2 separate regions of the Homo sapiens genome follow, and region 1 is linked to region 2. Evidence: fine-mapped expression QTL. Tissue or cell type: whole blood. Region 2 holds a variant in brackets; the other region holds the start of a gene. All regions are shown on one strand. Distances are from middle to middle.

Evidence for each region. PIP is the estimated chance that this variant, and not a neighbour inherited with it, causes the effect.
Region 1: PHPT1 starts here. The variant in region 2 is fine-mapped to the expression of PHPT1 in whole blood (TOPMed, PIP above 0.99).

What each region holds. Positions count from the first base shown.
Region 1 is chr9:136,844,830-136,852,864 of GRCh38, forward strand. It overlaps PHPT1 (phosphohistidine phosphatase 1), which reads left to right and starts at 4,580. Exons shown (of 3, transcript NM_014172.6): 1 at 4,580-4,761; 2 at 5,184-5,308; 3 at 5,926-6,195. The coding sequence starts at 4,602. The coding sequence ends at 6,018. AJM1 (apical junction component 1 homolog) reads left to right here. Exons shown (of 3, transcript NM_001080482.5): 3 at 1-3,972. The coding sequence ends at 2,516. It overlaps MAMDC4 (MAM domain containing 4), which reads left to right and starts at 7,517. Exons shown (of 27, transcript NM_206920.3): 1 at 7,517-7,633. The coding sequence starts at 7,588. RefSeq lists silencers at 2,992-3,041, 3,522-3,751, 3,972-4,031, 4,112-4,191, 4,372-4,431 and 1 more and an enhancer at 4,552-4,831.
Region 2 is chr9:136,930,971-136,939,308 of GRCh38, forward strand. No RefSeq gene overlaps it. Among named protein-coding and RNA genes, the nearest start is that of FBXW5, 9.6 kb to the right of the region's middle. RefSeq lists enhancers at 6,474-7,087, 7,088-7,700. The variant G/A (reference allele first, on the strand shown) is at 3,974.

The sequences.
Region 1 (8,035 bases), 86 kb before region 2:
TCCGCGCCCTTGCCAACGAGCTGCATCCCATCAAGTTGCAGCCGCAGCGGGGCGGCCCCGGCCGCGTCGCGCCCCTGTGCGCCGCCGCGGGCCGCTGCGCACCGCCCGAGCCACCCGCGGGTCCCGCCCCCCACGTGCGCTGCCGCCTGGACATCAAGCCAGACGACGCAGTGCTCCAGCACGCCACCCGGGGCTCGCGGTCCTGCGGGCCCACCGAGGCCGCGCACTGGGCCCGCCCCGCCCCGCAGTTCCACGGCCTCACGGTGCCCGGGCCCCGCCACATGGCGCTGTCGCGCACCCCGACGCCCAGCGACTCATACTGTGCGGATCCCCGGGCGTTCTACTGCGACGGGCCCCTGCCTGGGCCCCGGGACTACGCCGAGCGCCGCAGTCTGCCCTTCACCACCCCGCCGGGCCCCACCCAGTTCTTCTATACAGAGGAGCCCCAAGGCTTCCGGGGCAGCTTTGCAGCCAGTCCCGGCCCAACCTTCGACGCCTACTACCCCAGGCCCTATCCGTCCGAGGAGCTCTCGGGGCCCAGTCCAAGGCGCATGGGCGGCTACTACGCAGGAGAGGTGCGCACCTTCCCAATCCAGGAACCGCCCTCCCGCTCCTACTATGGGGAGGCTCCACGAGCCTACGGCCTGCCCTACGGGCCCCGCTATGTCCCCGAGGAGCCCCGGGCCCACTCCACCGCCCGCCCCTTTTACACGGAGGACTTCGGAAGGTACCGCGAGCGTGACGTCCTGGCTCGGACGTACCCGCACCCGCGCAGCAGCCCGGCCTGGGCGGACTGGGGCCCGCGACCGTACCGCACCCTGCAAGTGGTGCCGCCCTCTGACCCCGACCCGTTGCTCGCCTCCTGGCACGGCGGCACCGGCACCAGTCCGCCCCGGCTGGCCACCGACAGCCGCCACTACTCGCGCTCCTGGGACAACATTCTGGCCCCGGGGCCGCGCCGAGAAGACCCGTTGGGCCGCGGCCGCAGCTACGAGAACCTGCTGGGGCGCGAGGTGCGGGAGCCGCGAGGCGTGTCCCCCGAAGGCCGGCGCCCGCCCGTCGTCGTGAACCTGTCCACCTCTCCCAGACGCTACGCCGCACTGTCCCTGTCCGAGACGTCGCTGACGGAGAAGGGCCGCGCGGGCGAGGGCCTGGGCCGCAACTGGTACGTGACGCCCGAGATCACCATCACTGACAATGACCTGCGCGCCACCGAGCGCCCGAGCGCCAGGGCCTGGGAGTTGCCCGGGGGCCGCACGCGGCCACCTCCCCACGCGGCCCCCGACGGCCCCACCTCTGGCCGCCAGCGGAGCCTAGAGCAGCTGGACGAGCTCATCACGGACCTGGTCATCGACTCGCGACCCACCGCCGGCCAGGCCTCAGAGCCCGCGGCCGACTGCCTGGGCCCCCAACTGCGCCGACTGCTGGACTCGCGGCCCGCGGGCTCCGGGGCCCCCGCGCTGGCGCCGCCACGCTCGCCCCCCGCCTCGGCCGGCAGCGCCGAGGAGCCCGCGGCCCCGGGAGAGGCGGCCGACGCGTCCCCCGAACCCAGCGCCGACGAGGACGACCTGATGACCTGCTCCAATGCGCGCTGCCGGCGCACCGAGACCATGTTCAACGCCTGCCTCTACTTCAAGTCCTGCCACAGCTGCTACACCTACTACTGCTCGCGCCTGTGCCGCCGCGAGGACTGGGACGCCCACAAGGCGCGCTGCGTGTACGGCCGCGTGGGCAGCGTGTGCCGCCACGTACTGCAGTTTTGCCGCGACAGCGGCCCGGTGCACCGCGCTTTCTCGCGCATCGCGCGTGTCGGCTTCCTGTCGCGCGGCCGCGGCGTGCTCTTCCTGGGCTTCCCAAGTCCAGGCTCGGCCGACAACTTCCTGCGCTTTGGCCTGGAGGGGCTGCTGCTATCCCCCACCTACCTATCGCTGCGTGAGCTGGCCACACACGCGGCGCCCCTGGGCAGCTACGCGCGCGAGCTGGCGGCCGCTGGGCGCCTCTACGAACCGGCAGAGTGCTTCCTGCTCAGCGTGTCCGTGGCCGTGGGACCCGGCACCGCGCCACCGGGGACACCGGCCCTGCCCGCGCCCGCGCCACGCAGCCACGGGCCAACAGTGCGCAAGTTCGCCAAGGTAGCGCTGGCGGCCGGCAGCCCCGCGCGGCCGCCCCCGGCGCGGAGCCGCGAGCCCGACATGGAGACGCTGATCCTGACGCCACCGCCGGGCACGGCGGGCCTGGATCAGGACGGCGAGGCGGGCCGGCGCGCGCGCGAGGTGGCCTTCATCCACATCCAGCGCGAGCTGCGGCTGCGCGGCGTCTTCCTGCGCCACGAGTTCCCGCGCGTCTACGAGCAGCTTTGCGAGTTCGTCGAGGCCAACAGGCGCTTCACGCCCACCACCATCTACCCCACGGACCGGCGCACCGGCCGCCCCTTCATGTGCATGATCATGGCCGCCTCCGAGCCGCGCGCGCTCGACTGGGTGGCCAGCGCCAACCTGCTGGACGACATCATGTGAGGCGCCGGGCCCACCAGGCCTAGCCCAGGCGCTGGCCCGAACCCTGCCCTGCCCACTCAGGCCCCGCCCGGCCCACCCAGGGCCGCCCCCGAGCCCCGCCAGGGCCCCACCCCGACTTCTTCTAGGCCCCGCCTCTAATTCCCCAGCCTTCCAAGCTCCGCTCAGTTCGGCCTCCAGCTCCGCCCAGGCCCCCACCCCCCGGCCCTTCGTCCCCGTAGTGTTCCTCACAGGCCCTTCGCCTTCCCACCCCCAGCAACCCCTCTCCCTCCTCCGGGCCTCCTCCCTCTCCCAGCTCGCCCTCGAGGATCCCCAGAAGAAGTCGGTCCTCGCCCTCGGTGCTCCCCGCTGGGAGGCGGGGTGGGCCTGAGGACCGCCGAGCTCTGCCTTCACTCGGAGGGGTCACTACTGCACAGACCCCACCCGTAGAGATCCGGTCCCCGTCGGTCCGCGGGGCTCTCGCTGGAGCCTCCCCGACTCCGGTTTCCCCTCGTCCAGAAGCCCGACGTAACCAAAGCCCAGTCTGTCACTTTAAACACGCCCCGCCCCGCCTCCCGCGGCTGTGTTGCCTCCTCGCTGGAGAACACCCTGGTCGACCTCTGTGCGTCCGTGTGCGCGAGCGCGTCCCGCCGAGGCGGTGGGCAGGGCGGACGGTGCGCAGTGCGTTCCCGCTGGTCGGAGCCAGCACACTAACCACGCCACGCGCCCTGCCGTCCCTTCGCCTCCAGCCGCTGCAGTCTGGGCCCTGCAGGAGCTGGGAAAAACCGCAGGGAGGTCTTCAGGCCGATATGCAAGTCTCCCAGCCGAAGGGGCAGGGGACCTGAACAGGGGAAGCAGAGCACCTGGGCCTGGCCAGAGCTGACACCTGGCTAGGAGAGGAAGGACCAAGGGACGGGGCGTTCCCAGGTGGGAGCCTGGAGGGCAAAGCGTGGTGCGAGCAGGTGAGGGAGAGAGCTAGTTGGTAAGCGTGGAAGCCCACCCGAGGGGGCTTGACCTGTCCCGAGAGGTCCCCGCACACCCGCTCTGGCCGCACGCCGTACTGCGGGCGTGGAGGCGCAAGCCCGGCGGCCCGGCCTCCACCTGTCCCCCAAGTGCACCCTGGTCCGCGCCCAGAGCTCTCTGGAGGGTGGGGTATGCGGGAGAGGGGTGGAGGCCAAACGCAAGGGCCCTCCTGGAGTCCCCAGCCCTACTTCGGAGCCAGGGGAGGGGGCACCAAGTGAGAGAAATTGGGCACCCCCGCCTCCGCTCCTGCTTTCGCACCCGGCACGCCCATCTCGTCCCCGCGCGTCTGCACCGGCCAGGCGTCCCGCTTGCCCACCCGCCGCCGCGCCCCGCGCCCCCTACCCCAGGGCCTCTGCATTCGGCCCCACCCCTGAGGGCCGGCCGGGAACGCCCCTGGACCGGAATAATTTCCAGGGGGCAAGAGCTTTCGAACCAAGTAAAATAGAACTTGAATGTAGCGGCTGCCGTTGCCTCCTTGTACCGGTAGCGGGGTTGGGGACGGAAGCCTTCGGTCGGTGGAGAGGAGAAAGGGAGAGGCCTTCGGGCGGTGGACGGGGAAGAGAGGGAGTCCTTCGGGCGGTGGAGGGGGTGGAGAGCGAGGCCTTCGGGCGGTGGAGAGCGGGGAGGGGGGAGGCCTTCGGGCGGTGGGAGGGGGAGAGAGGGAGGCCTTTGGGCGGTGGGGGCCACGGGGAGGGTGGTCTTCGGACTACGTGCGGGACAGGAGGTCAGGGCTGGCAAGTCCCTCAGGCCTCCCTCGTTGCCCCAGCCTCGCGGGCCGCCTAACTGCCCCGTTCCAAGGGTGCCACCGGACCCCGCTGGAGAGGAACTTCTCCGTTGGCTGGATTTCATCACCACCCATTCCCGATTCCACGTTTCCTTTAAGCGGGGCTGGCGGAGCCGCAAGGCGGCAAGGAACTGGATTGCGATTGGTCAGCACGTGCCTCGGTCGGCGGTACAATTGGCTGAGGCGCTGGGCCTTGGGAAGCATTCCCCGACGGGATTGGTCGTCGCTCTCGCAGAGCCCGCCTCCCGCAGTACAAGCGGCCCCCGGGTCGGGTGGGAGGAGGGGACTCCGGGAGGAGGAACATGGCGGTGGCGGACCTCGCTCTCATTCCTGATGTGGACATCGACTCCGACGGCGTCTTCAAGTATGTGCTGATCCGAGTCCACTCGGCTCCCCGCTCCGGGGCTCCGGCTGCAGAGAGCAAGGAGATCGTGCGCGGCTACAAGTGGGCTGAGTACCATGGTGAGGGCGGGACCTGCGGGCATGCCAGGGGCACGCCTGGCGAGGCGGGGGCGGGGCTGGCGGGACGGAGACGGGGCTGACGAGGCAGGGGCGGGGCTGGCGGGGCGGGGGCGGGGCTGCGGGCCGTAGCGGACTGCGCTCTGCTCCGAGTCCTGCCCCTGCTAGGTTTGACCCAGGCTGAGGTCCTGGGCGGGAAGGGCGTGACACGGCCTGACACCCTCCCCAGCAGTCTCCCAGTTCCCGCGCCCTCCCCGGTTCCACCCTCCTTCGCTCATTCATCCCTGTCCCAGCCTCAAGGGGCTTCGTCTCTCCTGGGGAAGGGGCTGTTCAGAGCTGGGATTTCAGACCCCTTCGGCTGGGAGTTCCTCCCGCGGCCTCCAAGGGCGGCCAGGGCACGTCCTGAGGCCGCCCTCCCATCCCAGCGGACATCTACGACAAAGTGTCGGGCGACATGCAGAAGCAAGGCTGCGACTGTGAGTGTCTGGGCGGCGGGCGCATCTCCCACCAGAGTCAGGACAAGAAGATTCACGTGTACGGCTATTCCATGGTGAGCCGCAGCCCCGTCCCGCCCTGCCGGAGGCCCCAGTACCAGCTTCGAGGCCCACCTGAGCCTGCTGCCCTGACCCGTGGCCCCAGCTGAGCACGCAGGCTTCCTGGGGTTCTCCCAGGGTCGGCGGCAGAGCCCTCCCTCCAGGGCCCATTGTGTTCCTGCATTCCCCCATGGAGCACACGCCAGACCTGAGGGGTGGGACGGACACCCCCAGACATGGCCGGCTGTCTCCTCTCCCTGCCTTGGGAGGCCTTGCTGGGCTCTAGCTGTCCTCCAGCACTTTGGGCCCTGGGCCCCCAGAGGCAGTCAGTACCTGGGTGGAGCTCAGAGTCCCCACCTGTGCTCTTCACAAAAACCACCAGCAGATGAGACCCACGTGCGTCCCTCTGGGCGCCTCAGGCCCCAGGATCCACCATCAAGGTTTGCTTGCCTGTGGAGGTCGCCTCTCCCCAGGGGAGCCCCCAAGGGCGGTCGGGATGGTGGGTTTGGCATCCCCAGGCACTGCCTATCCCTTTCCCACACTCGCTTCTGGTGTGGCTGGTGGCTGGATGCCCAGAGCCGGGTATCGGGTTGAAGGGTCCAGGTAGTGCCAGCAGGCGTCTTCTCTTCTCCAGGCCTATGGTCCTGCCCAGCACGCCATTTCAACTGAGAAAATCAAAGCCAAGTACCCCGACTACGAGGTCACCTGGGCTAACGACGGCTACTGAGCACTCCCAGCCCGGGGCCTGCTGCCTCCAGCAGCCACTTCAGAGCCCCCGCCTTTGCCTGCACTCCTCTTGCAGGGCTGGCCCTGCCTGCTCCTGCGGCAGCCTCTGGTGACGTGCTGTCCACCAGGCCTTGGAGACAGGCTAGCCTGGCCACAGAATTAAACGTGTTGCCACACCTGCCGGCTTCTGAACTCTGTCCTTGGCTTCCTGCACCCTGCGTCACCACCTCCGGGGGCCCCCAGACCCTAACTAAAGCAGGTGGGTGGGGGAACACAGGAGTGGCCCCAGGGAGTGGCGGTGCACACTCAGCCCTTTGGGGTCTGATAAAGGGGCCCGCTGATGGCCTGACTGCTCTTCCCACGGCCATCGTCCTCCAGGGCATCTTGGAGGAGGTCTGGCAAGCCCTTGCGAGAGGAGTCAGGGCCTGGTCCCTCGGGCTGGCCAAGACCTGGGGCGCCCACCAGTGCTCCCTCCTATGAGCCCATCCCAGGGCTCCCCAGTGTCCTGTCTGCCCTGAGGCTCCTTCCGTGACCTGCAGGCTCCTTCCATGACCAGCCCCATGGGGCCTACCAGTATCCAGGGTCAGGTCGCACAGCTGCATCTACCCCACAGGCTCACGTTGACTCTGGAGGCCCCTCCCAGGTCCCTCTTGCACCCGGCAGGGCTGTGGGCAGGACACGGGTTCAGGCCTTGCCCTGGGAAGCCCCATACACAGTGGGACTCCATGGGGTGGTGCAGGGGCACCCTGGGGGCCAGGGCTGGTTGTACACAGGGCACCCCCACCTTTGTCAGCTCACTGGTCCTCCGGCCAGCCTCTCCAGACGGGCACTGTCATAACCACATTTTACAGACCGGGACACTGAGGCTCAGTGACACAAGCTCCGAGGTCACACCATGGGAAATCACAAACAGGGCCTGGCCCCAAATGCCACACTCCTTCCCCAGCCCCAAAGACCCTGCCCCAAGCATGAGTCTGCTCCATGAGAAACCGAAGTTTCTGGGCTCCTAGGGACCCTGTATCTGGCACCGGACAGCACCTGGCTGCTCAGGACGAATGAATGACGGCGTGATCCTCCACAGCCTGACTTAAAGGCAGGTTCCCCACGGCTGAGAACGCAGGGACCAGCTCTGGTGCACGTGCTGGACTCCTGCAGCTGCTGGACTGGTTGAGTCCTGACCTTGGCCAGCACCACGCTATTGCCAGAGGCACAGTGAGAGGCCACGGCGGCCTCTGCCCGCCCCACACTGCCGAGCAGAGTCCTGGTGGGGTGCCTGGGTCCCTCCCCATTCCAGTGGGAGCCTCCCCTTCACCAGGCAGGGCAGGGCAGGGTGGAAGAGCCTGACCTTGTGTCTGAGGGAGCCGGGCAGGTGGGAGCTGACCCTGGGTCAGAGGCCCCCTCCTGGGGCCACTTTCACGGCCCATGCTTGGCACCGTCAGCACTGGGTGGGGCCGGGCCGAGGGGCCCTCCACTTAACAGCAGAGTCAGCGTGCGGGGCCAGCGCAGGCTGATAACCGCACGGAACTTCCCAGGCACCCTGTGTGGCCGCACTGCTCCCTCTGGCCCAACCATGCCTCTGTCCAGCCACCTGCTGCCCGCCTTGGTCCTGTTCCTGGGTAAGTAGTCTGGTCCCACTCCTGAGGCAGGACCAGGGGCCCTGGCTTCTGAGCCTACCATCTGTGTGGCAGTGACGGACACCAGGGCTGATGCCTGAGCCCCAAAGGGAAGGAGGGTTGCAAGGTACTACCTTGGCCGGCCTGCAAGGGGGGTGACCTGGAATCAGCCCATGGGGTCCTCGGGCCTGCCAAGCAAAGGAAGAGGCACGACTCCCCTCCCAGTCTGGGACAAGAGGGCTCAGGAGGTGCCCCCAGCTCTGCCAGCCTTCATCTGCCACCCTTGGACTGGGTGGAGCTTGTGGAGGCCCTGGGCCGCCCGTCGATGCCTCCCATTGGGGGTCGCCCTCCCAGTGCCCAGTTCCCTGCTGGGCACTCTGGGTTCCTGCTACCTTTCTTGGGGTG
Region 2 (8,338 bases):
CTCTGTCACCAGACTGGAGTACAGTGACCCATCTTGGCTCACTGCAACCTCTGACTCCTTGGTTCAAGCGATTCTCCTGCCCCAGCCTTCCAAGTATTTGGGATTACAGGTGCATGCCACCACACCCAGGTAATTTTTTTGTATTTTTAGTAGAGTCGGGGTTTCACCATGTTGGCCAGTATGGTCTCGATCTTCTGACCTCAGATCTGCCTACCTCGACCTCCCAGAGTGCTGGGATTACAGGCATGAGCCACTGCACCCAGCCGGAGACAGGGTCTCTCTGTTGTCCAGGCTGGCCTGAAACTCCTGGGCTCAAGTGATCCGCCTGCCTCAGCTTCCCAAAGTGATGGGATTACAGGCATTAGCCACCACGCCCAGCCAGTTGTTGTTTTTCAGAATTGTTTTCCCTATTTTTGTTTGTTTGACAGTACATATATATTTCACAGTCAACTACAAAAAAATTCTGGGATTTTGATTGGAATTGCGTTAAGTCTACACATCAGTTTGGGGAGAATTGACATCTGTGTTGAGTCAGACAATCCATGAACATAGTCTATCTCTATTCTTTATCAGCGTTTTGTAGTATTTCATATGTATGTTGAACTGGCTGGAATGCAGTGGCATGATCGCAGCTCACTGTGGCTTTGACCTCCTGGGCTCAATGGATCTTCCCACCTCAGCCTCCTAAGTAGCTGGGACTACAAGTGTGTGCCACCACGCCCGGCTAATTTTTGTATTTTTTGTAGAGATAGGGTTTTGCCATGTTGCCTGGGCTGGTGTCCTGGACTCAAGTGATTCACCCACCTCTGCCTTCCAAAGTGCTGGGATTATGGGCATAAAAGTCACCACACCCAGCCAGTATACATATCTTGTACATGTTTTAGTAGGTTTATGCTTCAGTGTTTCTTTTACTTATTTATTGCTTCCTATCCCACAGCTTACTTTGTTTCTTGAGCTGTTGTAAGAGGTTGTTTTTTGAATTTTGGTTTCTGACTGTATATTTCCAGTGTTTAAAAACAAAACTGATTTTTATGTGTTGTTCTTATACCTCATAACCTTGATGAATTCACTTACTGGTTGTAGGAGATTAGGATTTTGTTTGTTTTTATAGATTTGGGGGGATTTTATGTGTGAACAATATGTCATCCATTAATAAGGACAGTTTTATTTCTTTTTATTCAATCTCTATGCCTTTTATTTCTTTTGCTTGCCTTGTTCCATTGGCTGACTTCCCGTTTATAAGGTTGAATAGTAATGGTAAGAGTCTATAGCCTTTCCTCATTCCCACTCTTGGGGAAAGCTTTCTTGCTTTCACAATTATGTATCATGTTACCCACGGGGATTTTTGGTGATGCTGTTTTATCAGGTTGAGCAAGTTCCCTTCTACTTCTAGTTTGCTTCTAGGGTTTTTTTTTTTTTTTTTTATCATGACTAGACATTTTATCAAGATGTTTTTCAATGGCTGGGTTTGGTGGCTCATGCCTATAATCCCAGCACTTTGGGAGGCCGAGGCAGGCGGATCACCTTAGGTCAGGAGTTTGAGACCAGCTTGGCCAACATGGTGAAAACCCATCTCTATTAAAAACAAAAATTAGCTGGGCATGGTGGTGCACTCCTGTAATCCCAGCTACTTGGGAGGCTGAGGCAGGAGAATTGCTTGAACTGGGAGACGGAGGTGACAGTGAGCTGAGATCGTGCCATTGCACTCTAACCTGGGCAACAAGGAAACTGTCTTCCAAAAAAAAAAAAAAAAAGATGCTTTTTCTATACCAAGTGATATGTTCATGTGGTTTTTCTCCTGTACAGTTAATATGGTGACTTATGTTGATCTTCAAATATTGGACCAACCTTGCATTCCTGGAATAAACCCTACCTGGTTATGGTGCACTATCACTTTTATATATTGCTGGATTTGATTTAAATTTTTTTTGAGGATTTTGCATCTCTGTTCATGAAGGACATTTGTCTATAATTGTCTTTTGTATTGTCTTTGTCTGGTTTTTGGTATCAGGGTGCTGTGGGCAGAAAATCGAGACCAGGAGTGGGTTTGTTGTCATCACAAATGCTCGAAAAATGTGGAAGCAGCTTTGGAACTGGGTAGTAGGCAGAGGCCAGAAGAGTTTGGAGGAGCGAGAAGAAGCTTAGATGCCATTCATGGAGTGTAAAGGGTGATTTTGTTGAGGGCTCAGAAGAGAACTGTAGGGAAAGTCTGAAGCTTCTTTGAGAATACTTAAAGTGGTCATGGTCAGAATGTTGGTAGAAATCTGGACAGTGAAGGCCATTCTGGTAAGATCTCAGACAGAAATGAAGAACAAGGTGTCAGAAACTGGAGGAATGACCATCCTAGTTATAAAGTGGCAGAGAACGTGGCTGAACGGTGTCCATGCCCAGTCCTTCCTTTGTGGAAGGAACTGGGATATCTGGCTGAAGAAATACTCAGGGTGTGGCATGTTTTCTTCTAACTGCAGAGAGTAAGATGTGAGAAGAGAAATGAATTAAAGATGGAATTTATAATTAACAAGGAAAGAATAGGGATCGTAAGGATTTTCAGCCTGCCCATTTAGGGAGTAAATAAGATGTCTTTAGGAGAACAGACCAAGTGTGTGGCCAAGCAACTTAGTATGGACAGAACGAAGCCAGAGGCTGCTCATCAGGACAGTGGGAAAATGGCCCCAGAGGCATTTCAGATTCCTGGTGCTGCCCCTCCCACCACAGGCCCAGAGTGCCAAGGCCTTTGGGAAGGAAATATGTCAAAAGAGAGGTGTAGGGTGTGGACCTTAGAGCCTGCTGGCCAGGGCCACCCCAAGTCTTGGCTGTCTGCATTCCAGTGCAGACCCCCTAAGCCACTCCAGCCTGTCTCATGTGGACCCAGGGAAGGTACAAGTCATAAGCCTTGGTGGTGTCGATTCTGCAGCCTTGCAGGAGCTGTGGGGACATGGCTTCATCCACTGGGTGTCACACAGGATGTCACAAGTCTCCAGGCCAGAGCCATGGCAGAGAGCCCACACTAGGGCAATATGTGGTAGAGCCTTGGGGATAAGGCCACCCCTGAGACCCCAGAACTGGAGAGCCTCTAGTGTTCATTGCCAGCCTGGGAGAGCTGAAGGCACGAGACTCCAACCTAAGAGAGTTGTGTGAGGTCTGAGCCCAGCAAAGCTCTAGGGGTGAGGTTCCCAAGAGCCTGAGGACCCAGCCGCACCCCACGGCGTGCAGAAGGCAGGATTTGGAGTCAAAGATGATGATTCTCAAGCCTTAGGATTTAGTAGTATTCTCCCTGTTGGACTTTGGACATGCTTTTGAGGCCTGTTATTCCTTTCCTCTTTATAATTTATCCCTTTGGAATGGAAATGTCTGTTCTATGCCTGCCCTACCATTGTATTTTGGAAGCACGTAACTTGTTTAATTTCACAGGCTCATAGTGGAGGGAAAGTTGCCTCAGGATGAATCATGCCTTGAGTCTCACCCATGTTTGATTTAGACGAGACTCTGGGCTTTGGACTTTTGAATGGGGCCATTGGGATGGAATGAGTATATTTTGTATGTGAAAAGAACATGAATTGGTGTAGGGGCAGGGATGGAATGCTACGGTTTGAATGTTTTTATCTCCCAAACTCATGTTAATATTTAATTGTCATTGTAACAGTGTTAAGAGGTGGGATCCTTAAAGGGTGATTAGGTCAGAGGGAAGATAGGCTGGAATTGGTGCTGGTATAATAAGATGAGCTTGGCCCTCTCTTGCCCTTCCACCTTCCACAGTGACACAACAAGAAGGATTGCACCAGACGCTGGCACCTTACTCTGGGACTTCCCAGCCCCCAGAACTGTGAGCCAATAAATTTCTATTCCTTATAAATTATCTGGTCTCAGGTATTCGGTTATAGCAGCAAAAACAGACTAAGAGAAGACAATGTTTGTGCCCCCCCCACCCAATTTCCTGTGTTGAAACATAATCTCCAATGTGATGGTACTTGGA[G/A]GCAGGACTTTTTAGATCATGAGGGTGCAACACTTGTGGATGGGATTCGTGCCCTTAAAAAGAGGCTGCAGCCCAGTATGGTGGCTCACGCCGTAATCCCAGCACTTACGGAAGCCGAGGCAGGCGGATCACTTCAGCCTAGGAGTTCAAAACCAGCCTGGACAACATGGCAAAACCCCATCTCTACAAAAAATATAAAAATTAGCTGGGTGTGGTGGTGCATGCCTGTGGTCCCAGCTACTTGAGAGGCTGAGGTGGGAGGATCACTTGAGCCTGAAGGTCGAAGCTGCAGTAAGTCATGACTGTACTGGTGACTCAAGGCTGGGCAACAGAGTGAGAACCTGTCTTTTTTTTTTTTTTTTTTTTTGAGATGGAGTCTTGCTCTGTCGCCCAGGCTGGAGTGCAGTGGCGCGATCTCGGCTCACTGCAAGCTCCGCCTCCTGGGTTCACGCCATTCTGCCTCAGCCTCCCGAGTAGCTGGAACTTGGTCTCGATCCTCCTGACCTTGTGATCTGCCCACCTCGGCCTCCCAAAGTGCTGGGATTAACAAGCGTGAGCCACCGCACACGGCCTTTTTTTTTTTGTATTTTTAGTAGAGACGGGATTTTACCATGTTGGCCAGGCTGGTCTTGAACTCCTGACCTCAGGTGATCTGCCCGCCTTGGCCTCCCAAAATGTTAGGGTTACAGGCGTAAGCCACCGTGCCCAGCCTTTTTCCTTCTCTTTTTATAGATACCTAATCTTGGTATGAATGGTCCTTTTTACATCTTCTATTTTTTTGCTGAGACTTTCATATTTTTACATCCATTGCAAAATGTTTGTGATTGCTTGCTCTGGCATATTTATAGTAGCTACTTTAAAGCCCTTGTCAGATAATTTCAGCATCTGTGTCTGTGTCACTTCCTCCCAAGCCTGGCGTTTGGTTGGTGAGGACTTGCAGGTTCCCCCTGCATATCGGGAAGTGTGAGTTTTTGTTCAGGGTGCATCTACCTGGGGCCATGGCATAATGTTCATCTGCAATGATTGTAAGGTGTTCAGATTTTGTAAATCCAAATAAAACTGTTTTAAAGAACACAATCCTCAGCCGGGCATGGTGGCTCATGCCTGGAATCCCAGCACTTTGGGAGGCCGAGGCGGGCGGATCACGAGGTCAGGAGATCGAGACCATCCTGGCCAACACAGTGAAACCCCGTCTCCACTAAAATAATACAAAAAAATTAGCCGGGCATGGTGGCGGGCGCCTGTAGTCCCAGCTACTCGGGAGGCTGGGGCAGGAGAATGGCATGAACCTGGTAGGCAGAGCCTGCAGTGAGCTGAGATCGCGCCACTGCACTCCAGCCTGGGCGACAGAGCAAGACTCTGTCTCAAAAAAAAAAAAAAAAAAAAAAAATCTCTCTCTCCTACATTGCTGTCTGCAAAACAATGGAGGTTATGGATGTTAGATTGCATCTCGATGTTAAACCTTTGCTAATGTACTTATGGGAATCACAAAGATTCTGTTTGTAAATACAGAAGTGAATTGTAGACATAAAATGGTTGTGCCATGTGGATAATGGCAGGCACTAGGTGACATTTATGTAGTAACTAATGACAAAAATTCATGGCTAGTGGCATATAAAATACTCTTTGCAGTAAAATATTTCCTTGATTAATGTTATAGAAGGGGGACATAACAAGGAACTCACAGTTGGTGTGGCAGCTAGCCTCAAAGACTGTCTTTCATTTGGTTTCAGCACCTCCTGTTTGGGGTTATTAGCATCTTAGAAGAGCACGGTGGCCTTGTCTGATGAAGCCGAATTGTGCTGGTCTGTTCCGAGCTGGTTTAAGTGTTCTGATGGGCAGCTGTGGATGTTGGGGTTCAGAGCTTAGTCATCGTTGCCTGAAATGGCACTAGACTCTACAATTTCTGCCTTGGAGAACACTCAGTTCTTACTTGTGATTTCTGGTAGAACAAGCTTTATTTTTCTAGCCTAGTAATGATCTTGAAGCAGAGGAATCCCAGTGCCTTTTAAGAATTGTGTTGGCCGGTGCGGTGGCTCACGCCTGTAATCCCAGCACTTCTGGAGGCCGAGGCTGGAAGATTACTTGAGCCCAGGAGTTTGAGACCAGCCTGGGCAACATAGACCTCATTTCTACAAAAATTAAAAAATAATAAAAATTTGTTGTGTGGTTTTTTAAAAAAGCTACTAATTGTTTTTGGGAAATAGAATTTATGGGTCTTTACCTTTGCACATTGAATCTTTTATTTTTTATTTTTATTTTTTAGAAACAGGGTCTCTGTCACCCAGGCTGGAGTGCAGCGGCCCGGTGATTGCTCCCTGCAGCCGTGGCCTCCCAGGGAACTAGGGTTTCAGGTGTGAGCCGCGGTGCCCAGCTGCAAGTTGAAATGTTGTGGTTCTTCGTGTGTCAAGCAATTTTGGGCTATATTCTAGACATTTTGAATATGACTTTATGAGATCTGGGTCATGTTTGAATCCTGTGGGAAATGTTGAAGTCTGGTTAGCAGGCACTTGGTCCTGTGAAGGTTGGGCCCACATTGTTCCTGCCCGCATGAGTATCTTTGGTTAGCAGGCACTTGGTCCTGGGATGGTCAGGCCCACACTGCTCCCACCTGCGTGGGTGTCTTTGGTTAGCAGGCACTTGGTCCTGTGAGGGTTGGGCCCACACTGCTCCCACCTGCGTGGACTCCTGTCTTCAGAGCTGCTGGTCTTTGGTCTGGGACCCAAGGCTGGTCTGCAGTTCCCCACGTCCATGGTGTGATCATTAGACCCATGTGTCTGCATGTGAGCTGAGCCCGGCATCCACAGCCACCCCATGTGGGTGCTTCCCAAGCTCCCCACGCTGGGTTTGGTTGCTGGGCTCACTCACTGTCAGTTCAGACAGTGACATGCCCTTGACTGGGCCGCGTTGGAGTCTATGTGGCAGGAGGACAGGGGAGGAAAGCTAATGGGGGTGGTCCCACCCTCAATACAGCCGCACTGAGCTGTGAGGGACTTTCTGGCCCCAAGTTTGGCTCTGATGGGTTCCTGTAGCCACCACTCCCACTGCCATCAGGGTCACAAAAGAATGGAGAAGAGGGTAAACCCAGGGCATTGCCTCACTGACCCTGCGCATCGGCGTGGGTTCCTTTCCCTGGCCCTTAGGGCTGCTCTGGGCTTTCTGCCTGGCCCCAGCACTCACGTCCGGTGTTGCGGCTGCGTGGAGTTCAGGTCATGGATGTTAGGTCAAGCACCAGTTCTGCGAAACTTGGGATCTTGCTGCTGCTCCCTGACCCAGCTCTCTGGCAGCTGCTCCAGGCCCCGTGCACAAGTTTCATAGCTGCAGTTTCACAGAGTTCACTCTGTCGCCCAGGCTGGAGTGCAGTGGCGCAATCTCAGCTCATTCCCGGGTTCAATGAATTCTCCTGCCTCAGTCCCCTGAGTAGCTGGGATTAGAGGTGTGTGCCACCACGCTCGGCTAATTTTTTTTTTTTTTTTTTTTAAGTACAAAAGGGGTTTCACCGTGTTGGCCAGGCTGGTCTTGATCTCCTGACCTCAAGTGATCCGCCTCGGCCTCCCAAAGTGCTAGGATTACAGGCATGAACCACCACGCCCGGCCTGACCTCAGCATATGTTTTCTGAGGACTTCTGTTCTTTTGCTAATTCAGTCACTTTCTCTTTAAACACTGGGTCTCCACCCCTGCCCCGTAGATGGGGTGGGGGCATGCATGCCGCTCCATTCCCCTCCCAGGGCTGTGTTTCTTTCGTCTCCTCTGTGCCATCTTCTGCTGCCTGGTCCTCTCGTCGAGTCTGTCTGGTCCAGCACTTTCCACATATCAAGATTTTTTTTTTTTTCTTTTCCTTTTTTGAGACAGAGTCTTGTTCTGTCGCCCAGGCTGGAGTGCAGTGGTGCAATCTCGGCTCACTGCAAGCTCCGCCTCCCAGGTTCACGCCATTCTCCTACCTCAGTCTCTCGAGTAGCTGAGACTACAGGCGTCCGCCACCGCGCCCGGCTAATTTTTTGTATTTTTAGTAGAGACAGGGTTTCACCTTGTTAGCCAGGATGGCCTCGATCTGACCTCGTGATCTGCCCACCTCGGCCTCCCAAAGTACTGGGATTACAGGCGTGAGCCACCGCGCCCGGCCTACGTATCAAGCTTTTGATGCAGTCACTCGCCCTGTCATTTTCCAGTGTCTAATTGGCTCCCTTTTTATTTTGAAATGTCCAAGTCCTCTTGATTTCTGTCCCCACTTTTGTTTTATGGTGCATAGGAATGTTTTTGTTAGTCTCCTTGAATGTGAACGTAGGTAAGTCCTTTTCAGGAAATTGCTCAATTCTTTGGAGCCTGCCCGTGGTGTGCTTGCATTTACAGAATCTGTCAGCTCC